Linked DNA regions of Homo sapiens: region 1 is reported to be linked to region 2. The links are microRNA targets in miRTarBase. Many come from high-throughput screens and were not tested one by one. Region 2 holds a microRNA gene; the other region holds the end of a gene's coding sequence.
Evidence for each region. Region 2 holds the annotated microRNA hsa-miR-4656 (UGGGCUGAGGGCAGGAGGCCUGU, at 1,152-1,174, opposite strand). A microRNA usually pairs through its seed, bases 2 to 8, with sites in the 3' UTR of a target mRNA and lowers its output. Matches are read on the target gene's strand: a 7mer-m8 pairs with bases 2 to 8, a 7mer-A1 pairs with bases 2 to 7 and ends in A, and an 8mer does both.

Region 1: the mRNA of LAPTM5 is a reported target of hsa-miR-4656. Seed matches in the 3' UTR shown: 8mer at 1,177-1,184 and 7mer-m8 at 1,970-1,976.

The regions. Positions count from the first base shown.
Region 1 is chr1:30,730,401-30,734,779 of GRCh38, reverse strand. LAPTM5 (lysosomal protein transmembrane 5) reads left to right here. Exons shown (of 8, transcript NM_006762.3): 8 at 863-2,311. The coding sequence ends at 952. Among named protein-coding and RNA genes, the nearest start is that of MIR4420, 6.6 kb to the left of the region's middle. RefSeq lists enhancers at 955-1,456, 1,497-2,002, 2,003-2,508, 4,178-4,287.
Region 2 is chr7:4,787,457-4,791,830 of GRCh38, forward strand. MIR4656 (microRNA 4656) reads right to left here and starts at 1,183; the gene lies at 1,109-1,183. It overlaps AP5Z1 (adaptor related protein complex 5 subunit zeta 1), which reads left to right. Exons shown (of 17, transcript NM_014855.3): 11 at 178-320; 12 at 698-838; 13 at 1,384-1,495; 14 at 2,376-2,473; 15 at 3,003-3,135; 16 at 3,217-3,431; 17 at 3,659-4,374. The coding sequence ends at 3,929.

The DNA.
Region 1 (4,379 bases), not on the chromosome of region 2:
TAACTGGTCTTGGAGGGTCAATGGATATGAGATAGCTGGGAAAGCAGAAGGAGGCTTTCCGGGAAGAGAGGATGAGGTGTGCTTAGAAGCAGCTTATTGGAAAGTGACGGTTTAAATTCCTGGTAACTTACTTTCCTCACCTGTAAGGTGGAGATTGTATTAGCTAAGACACTTTTGGTTGCAAGTGGCAGAAACCCAACTCAATCTGACTTCAGGAATTTACTAGCTCACAGAACTTAGCAGCCAAATGTAGGTCTGGCTTGGGCCTGGCTGAGTCCTGACATCAGGATATGATCTCGTCCTCTCCAACTCTTGACTCTACTTTCCTTGATGTTGGCTTCATTTTCCGGAAGCCCATCCCTTGTGGTGGCAAAAAGGCTGCCAAAACCCCTAGGCAGATATCCCACCCTCTCAGAAATCCCAACAGAAAAAGAAGGTCCCAGGAGTATGTCTGATTGGACCAACTTGGGCCACGTGCCTATCCCCAAACCAAGGACTATAGCCAGGGGGATGGAATTCTACTTTGAGTGGCCAAGTCCAGCCACCTCGCTGGATCTGAGGGATGGGACCAGTTCTTCTGAAGGTATATGGACTGAGAATGTTTTCCCAAGGAAAATGGTGCACTGTTTTCAAAATAAGGGGGACTTGATGCTGAATAGGCAAAGGCAAATATGTCCACTACAGGGCTGGGAACTGCACCTATCTCATGCAGGCAATGTCTAGCACATAGCAAATATCCAAGACCTGCCAGTCATTATCATCATCATTTTGCCAGAGGTGGGGGTTTGGGTCCCATGACCCCAGGTTGGAATTGCAGGTCATTCTTGACCATACTCAGCCCTCATCTCTCTGTCTCTCCCAGGTGGTCCTGCCGTCCTACGAGGAAGCCCTGTCTTTGCCATCGAAGACCCCAGAGGGGGGCCCAGCACCACCCCCATACTCAGAGGTGTGACCCTCGCCAGGCCCCAGCCCCAGTGCTGGGAGGGGTGGAGCTGCCTCATAATCTGCTTTTTTGCTTTGGTGGCCCCTGTGGCCTGGGTGGGCCCTCCCGCCCCTCCCTGGCAGGACAATCTGCTTGTGTCTCCCTCGCTGGCCTGCTCCTCCTGCAGGGCCTGTGAGCTGCTCACAACTGGGTCAACGCTTTAGGCTGAGTCACTCCTCGGGTCTCTCCATAATTCAGCCCAACAATGCTTGGTTTATTTCAATCAGCTCTGACACTTGTTTAGACGATTGGCCATTCTAAAGTTGGTGAGTTTGTCAAGCAACTATCGACTTGATCAGTTCAGCCAAGCAACTGACAAATCAAAAACCCACTTGTCAGTTCAGTAAAATAATTTGGTCAAACAACAGTCTATTGCATTGATTTATAAATAGTTGTCAGTTCACATAGCAATTTAATCAAGTAATCATTAATTAGTTACCCCCTATATATAAATATATGTAATCAATTTCTTCAAATAGCTTGCTTACATGATAATCAATTAGCCAACCATGAGTCATTTAGAATAGTGATAAATAGAATACACAGAATAGTGATGAAATTCAATTTAAAAAATCACGTTAGCCTCCAAACCATTTAATTCAAATGAACCCATCAACTGGATGCCAACTCTGGCGAATGTAGGACCTCTGAGTGGCTGTATAATTGTTAATTCAAATGAAATTCATTTAAACAGTTGACAAACTGTCATTCAACAATTAGCTCCAGGAAATAACAGTTATTTCATCATAAAACAGTCCCTTCAAACACACAATTGTTCTGCTGAAGAGTTGTCATCAACAATCCAATGCTCACCTATTCAGTTGCTCTGTGGTCAGTGTGGCTGCATAACAGTGGATTCCATGAAAGGAGTCATTTTAGTGATGAGCTGCCAGTCCATTCCCAGGCCAGGCTGTCGCTGGCCATCCATTCAGTCGATTCAGTCATAGGCGAATCTGTTCTGCCCGAGGCTTGTGGTCAAGCAAAAATTCAGCCCTGAAATCAGGCACATCTGTTCGTTGGACTAAACCCACAGGTTAGTTCAGTCAAAGCAGGCAACCCCCTTGTGGGCACTGACCCTGCCACTGGGGTCATGGCGGTTGTGGCAGCTGGGGAGGTTTGGCCCCAACAGCCCTCCTGTGCCTGCTTCCCTGTGTGTCGGGGTCCTCCAGGGAGCTGACCCAGAGGTGGAGGCCACGGAGGCAGGGTCTCTGGGGACTGTCGGGGGGTACAGAGGGAGAAGGCTCTGCAAGAGCTCCCTGGCAATACCCCCTTGTGTAATTGCTTTGTGTGCGACAGGGAGGAAGTTTCAATAAAGCAGCAACAAGCTTCTGTCTGGCTGATGTGTTTCTGGAAATACAGTGTAGGGAGGGTGGAGACCAGCCTTCTACCTCCATCACCCCAGGACTCACCCACACCCCCTACACCCACACCCCTCCACACACTCACACCCACCCCCACACACCCACAAATACACCCAAACACCCACACTCCCCCCACATACCCACACACTCACACCCTCCCCACACCCCTCCACACACTCACTCCCACCGCCTACACACCCACACACCCCCCATATACCCACACACTCACACCCCCCACACCCCTCCACACACGCCCACCCCCACACACCCATGTAAACACTCACACATACCTAGTTGCTCCATCCAGAAACTCCTCCCATGGGCCATGCTGAGCGAGGGGTGGTCCTGACCCAATGCTGTCTGATCATGAACCACAGCCCAAGATGATGCACCCTGATGTCTCCCTAATCAGGCGTGCACTCCACTCCCCTGGGGCTGGGTCCTGCTCTGGACACTGGGGAAGACCTCAACAGATGAGACTCGCCTCCAGTTCCCCCCAGTCTGCGGTAGGAGGGACAGATCTGCAAAAGGGCTGCCACGATAGGGAAAGCCTAGGGGACCTCAGACGTGGCCTGAGGGCCAGAGAAAGCCTCTTGGAGGCTGTCACCAAGTGGAGTCTGAAGGATGAGAAGGCAGCAGTAAGCAGAATGGGAAGGGTGCTCTAGGTCTAGGTAGCAGGACACGCAAAGACTCTATGGCATTGGGGAGAGGAGCTGGGGCGAGCTGCTCAGCGTGGCTGCAAGTGGGGAGGGGAGGGAGAAGAGGTCGGCCCGCTGTGGGGCTGGGTCAGGAAGAGTGTTTGCACACAGTGGGGCTCTTTAGGTGCAAGCTCACCCTGGCTAAGTTCAGCCAAGAAGGGAATTTACAGGAAGGACATGGTTGCAAGTAACAGAAGCCTTATGAGCCAAGTTTATTATGAGAAACCAGAAGGTGGTTCACGATGTTTCTTGGCTCTCATACAAATAAAAAATCCAGGGATTTTTGGCTTCAGGTATGGCAGGATCCAGGACTACAACTCTTTAATAATGTCTCTCTGTTTCTCCATCTCTTATCTTTTCTCCCCGGTGTGGCTGAGCTGTTGAGGACTTACCTGAAAGTAAAGTTAATAAAGAGACCAGGGCTGTTTGAATTGGGATCTGTCACCAATACCAAAAGAGCCCTCAGAGCCTTGAATGTCACACCGAGGAACATGGACTAATCCTGAGACAGGTGTCTTTGAAGGATTTTGGGCCAAGGAGTTACAAGGTTTGGGTTTTAGGAAGGAAGAGCCCAAATGCAGGGACCCCTACAAAGGCTGGGGAAGTCATCCTATGGGGCGGCAGGGACGGGGATGAGTTTGAGAGGCATTGTCAACCTTCTGGTGGTGTCAGTTTTTTTGTGGAATGGCAGATTTCTTCATGGATGTTATTTGCTCCTTATCAGACCCCCAAGCAGTTGGTGCAGTGTAATTCACAGAAATGGAAAGCGAGCTCCTGTTCACACTTGAGGGCAGAGGCCCAGAGACATCAAGTGACTTTCCTGAGGCCACACAGTGGTCAGAGATGAGACCAAGCACCTTTTTTTTCTACTCCGAGTGGAGGCTTTTAGACGGGCTGGGGCCCAGTCTGTGTCAGTTGTTGCTTCTTGCAAAGACCCATGGGAAGAGGGCCCGCTGAGAAGCCCCGGCAAGTGTGGATTGGGAGCAGAGGTCACGGGAGGAGAGACATTGGCCCAGCCTTGCATCCTATCACAAGGAGATTGAAGGGCCATGGCTGCGTGTGTCACAAGGACCAGGAGGCCCTGAACTTCCCGGCGCGACTCTCCCGTCCTTCCCGCCTTCCCCGACTCCCACCTCTGGCCTGGAGCCGAAGAACAGGCTGAGCTGTGTAGTGGGATTGTGCCCTGTGGCCAGGCAGCTGGGAGGGGGCCACCCGAGGGACAGGAAATAGCTGGGTTTGGGGAAGTCCGCATGGCTAGCCAAGCCAAGCGAGCCCACGATCGCCTGGGCAGCCCTCACTGAGGCCCTATCAATGCCCCGTTTGAGGCTCACACAGGGG
Region 2 (4,374 bases):
GCCTGGGCGACAGAGCAAGACCCTGTCTCAAAAAAATAAAAAGCGGGAGGAGGCAAAGGTAGAAGCCCTCCTGGGGACTGCAGGTCTGGGACAGCTGTGGGGCCCTAGCTGGCTCCTCCCTCTGCCGCCTGCTCCACAGCTCCGAGCCGTGTCCGAACCGCTGTGCTGTGCCCACAGTTCCTGGCCTGGAACAGCCCACCCCTCACCTCCGAGTTTGTGGCGCTCCTCCCGGCCCTGGTGGACGCTGGCACAGCCCTGGAGATGCTGCACGCGCTGCTGGACCTGCCCTGCTTGACGGCGGTGCTGGACCTGCAGCTCAGGTGGGCCCCTCACCCTCTGCCAGCGCTGCGTCTCCCAGCCAGCTGGTTCCACACACTGGGCCCCCTCCTCGCTGCTCCTGACCCCTACACCGGGGACCCTCCTTCTTCCCCCCCCAACACCTGACCAGTCCTCCCCTGCAAAGCCACCTCTAGGACAGGGTGTGTCTGTCACCCTTGGCCACTTGCCAAGGGCAGCCCCTGCACCCTGGAGTGCCTCACCCGTCTTCACGCCCAGGCCTGGAGCCTCCCATGCCAAGCCCTTCCTGGCACCCGAGGTGCTGTGATATTAGGGACACCTGCCGTGTGTCTCCCTGACGGGGGTGCCCTTGAGTGCAGGGGCCGCATCCCAGCCTGGCCTTGGGCGTCTGTCCACGCAGGTCAGCACCGGCTGCATCCGAGAGGCCACTCTGGGACACCTCTCTCAGGGCCCCCAGCTGCCTGGAGGCCTTCCGGGACCCGCAGTTCCAGGGTCTTTTCCAATACCTGCTGCGCCCCAAGGCCAGTGGCGCCACTGAGAGGTACGGGGCCCTAGGGCCAGGGGGCCACCAGTGGCTCAGAGAGCCCGGCCACAGCCACTGGGGTGGGGCTCACTGCTCAGCCCTAGGCTGAGGCCAGGGTGCTTTGTGTCCCACACAAGGCTGCGTCCCCGTCATCACCATTATAGAGGCCCTGCTTCTGCACCACGGGTCTGCCGGGGGCGGGGCCTGGTCTCAGCTCTCTCTGCTGCCCACATCAACCCTCATAAGCTTGGAGGTTGGCCCTGTGGGTGCTCCATTTTGCAGATGGACAAACCGAGCCTGAGCCCAGGAAGCAGGAGGCCTGGGACCGGCCACAGGCCTCCTGCCCTCAGCCCACGCCAGCCTTTGTCCCGATGGCTTTACTGTCCCGGGTGTGCTGACGCCAGGGGTCTCCCCAAACCCAGGGGAGCAGGAGGTCCCGAGAGGCGATGAGTGAGGATGGGAGCGGGCTCAGCTGTGCGAGAGGGAGCAGTGGCGACGTGGCCCCGGCCTGCAGTCACCAGGTCGGGGAGCGGGCAGCACTCACGGCCACACTGTGTCCTCAGGTTGGCGCCACTCCACCAGCTGCTGCAGCCCATGGCCGGCTGTGCCCGCGTGGCCCAGTGTGCCCAGGCCGTGCCCACGCTGCTGCAGGCATTCTTCTCAGCAGTGACCCAGGTGAGCTCGCTGCCTGGGGCCCCCCATTCCCACAGGCCTCACAACTGAGGGGCAGGCCAGAGCCAGCACTGGGGGGCCCTCTTGAGCTCTGCAGAAGGCTGCTCCCGCCACACCCACCATCCACGGTCCCTGTGAGGGTCAGGGAGGCACATGCCACAGCCCCGGCAGGCCCCGTCCCTTGTCCCATCCCCTTTATTCCAGCAGGCCCCGTTCCCCAGTCCCCGTCCCATCCCCTTCATCCCGGCAGGCCACGTCCCCCAATCCCCGTCCCATCCCCTTCATCCCGGCAGGTCCTGTCTCCCATCCCAGCAGGCTCCATCCAACTGCCCCAGCAGGCCCTGTCTTCCGTCCCCAGGACAGGGCAAGTGAGTGGCCTGGGCTCTGGCCACACAGCTGGGGCCGGAGCAGTTTGTCCCCCTGCTGCCCCTGATAATTCAGCATCCCCATCTGAGGCCAAAATAAAGGCTCCCACAGGCTGGTGCCCCCCATCTCCCCCATTGCTGCTTCCCACCTCGGGGAGCTCTACAAGCCAGTGCAGGAGAGCCTGGGAGGTGGGGAGGCCGGCAGGGGGCTGGGCGTTGCTTGGGCGCACCCTTGGCCAAACAAGACGTGTGCCTGGCCTTGCAGAGCGGGAGTTGGCAGAGGAGCCGTGGAACAGAAGCGACACCTCTGCCGGGGGCACTTGGGCCAGCCCAGGGCTTCCCTCCCTGTGCCCGGATGCTGCCAGCTGAGTCTCTGTGTCCCTGGGTGTTGGGGAAGGCAGTGGACGAGGAGTCTCCAGCCCCTCACCTGCCCCCCAGCCCTCACCATGGCTTCACCCCCAACCTTAGGGCCTGCAGTGGGGGTGGGGCTGAGCCTGTTTCCCACTCCTGACCCCCAGGTGGCTGACGGGTCCCTGATCAACCAGCTGGCGCTGCTGCTCCTGGGCAGGAGCGACTCGCTCTACCCGGCCCCAGGGTACGCTGCCGGTGTGCACAGGTAGGTCCCTCCTGCGCTCCTGCCACAGCCCTGGGCGGGTGCCTCCTGGACTCCTCCCCCTCTCCCCTCCCCCCTCCCCTTCAGTGGCTTCGGCACCACCCCTAGCTGGGCCCTCAGCAGCCTCAGACCCTGCCACCCCCACCCACAGCCCCACACCCAGCCCCAGGCACTTCTCTCTGCTTCTCAAGAACATTCCCGTCCTTCTTTCTGCCGAGCCTGTCCTCTTCAGGGTTAGCTCAGGTCCCTCTTCCCCGTCTTGTCCCCTGGGGTCCTTCTCTCCAAAGGCCTGATGCATGCAGGCCCATCCTGGTTCCACTCTGAGCCTGGGCCTGAGGCCAGCGCTGGTGCCAGCCTTCTCCCCAGTGAGAACAGTTTCTCTGAGGCTGGCAGTCTTCTGTGTTCCTCTATCGGAGGGTGCAGCATACACCTACCACTCAGACGCTTCCCGGGTTTCTCCAGGCCCTTGGCCTGGATGGGGATGGGGTCATAGGTCTGCACAGAGCAGGCGTAGACCCGGCTTTCTGGGCAGTGTGCTGAGTTCTCAGTTCCTGGCCCTGTGTACGCTGAAACCCTCCCTGGTGGTGGAGCTGGCAAGAGACCTGCTGGAGTTCCTGGGCAGCGTGAATGGTCTCTGCAGCAGGGCGAGCCTCGTCACCAGCGTGGTAAGGCGGGCGCTGGCCTCCCACAGCCGCTCCTGACCCAGGAGGCCTGGGTGGGGGCTGAATCTCTGTCCCCGGGCCTAGGTGTGGGCCATCGGCGAGTACCTGTCGGTGACCTACGATCGGAGGTGCACCGTGGAGCAGATCAACAAGTTCTTCGAAGCCCTGGAGGCTCTGCTATTCGAGGTCACCCAGTGCCGCCCCTCTGCTGCCCTGCCCAGGTGTCCCCCCCAGGTGGTCACCGTGCTGATGACCACGCTGACGAAGCTGGCCTCCCGGAGCCAAGATCTGATCCCCAGGTGCCTGGTCAGGGAGGGAGCGAAGCCTTCTGGCTCCTGGGGAAGAGAGGTGGCTTCTGAGGTCTTCCCATCCAGGTGTTGTGAAATGGTCGCAGCAGCGCAGGTCCTGGGTGGGCCCTGCTGAGCTAAAGCCACTCTGCTGGGCGCTTCAGGCCTGGCCCCTCCACACAGACCCCTGTCCTGGGAGGGGAGCATCTGCAGCTGACGGAGGGACCTTCTTTCCCCAGGGCCTCTTTATTGCTGTCAAAGATGAGGACCCTGGCTCACAGTCCAGCCACCAGCTCCACGCACAGCGAGGAGGGCGCGGAAGCCATCCGTACCCGGGCCACAGAGCTGCTGACCCTGCTGAAGATGCCTAGCGTGGCCCAGTTTGTGCTCACACCCAGCACGGAGGTGTGCAGCCCCCGCTATCACCGCGATGCCAACACGGCCCTGCCCCTGGCCCTGCGCACGGTCAGCCGGCTGGTGGAGAGGGAGGCCGGCCTCATGCCAGGGTGAAGGGACAGTGGCCAGGGACTTCGGTGCAGATTAAGAGCCTGGGCAGCCAGCTTGCTACTGAGGCCAGGCTGATAGGAGCTCAGGAGGGCGCGGGAGTCCTGGGAGAGGAGGCAAGGCCCACGGTGGGCTTGGCACCCTCACAGACACGCGGGGCTGGCCCCCCTGCTCACCCTCTGGGCTTTGTCTCCGAGCCTTTTGCTCCCAGGCAACACTGAGCTGAGCTGAGGGGTGCCATGGAGCGGCTCTGATTGGAGGCTTGAGGCCCTGTGGCTGGGTCGGGTGGAGGCTGCTGGGTCTGTTTCCTAGTCTTTTGTTTTTGGACAGTTGATGGGCAAGAAGAGCTGCAGTAAAAGTAAATCTCCTTTAATAAGCGTCTGTATGAAGAGTGCGCGATCAGTTCCGTTACCTGCCCTGCACCCTGGGGAGAGGACCAGGGATGGGAACC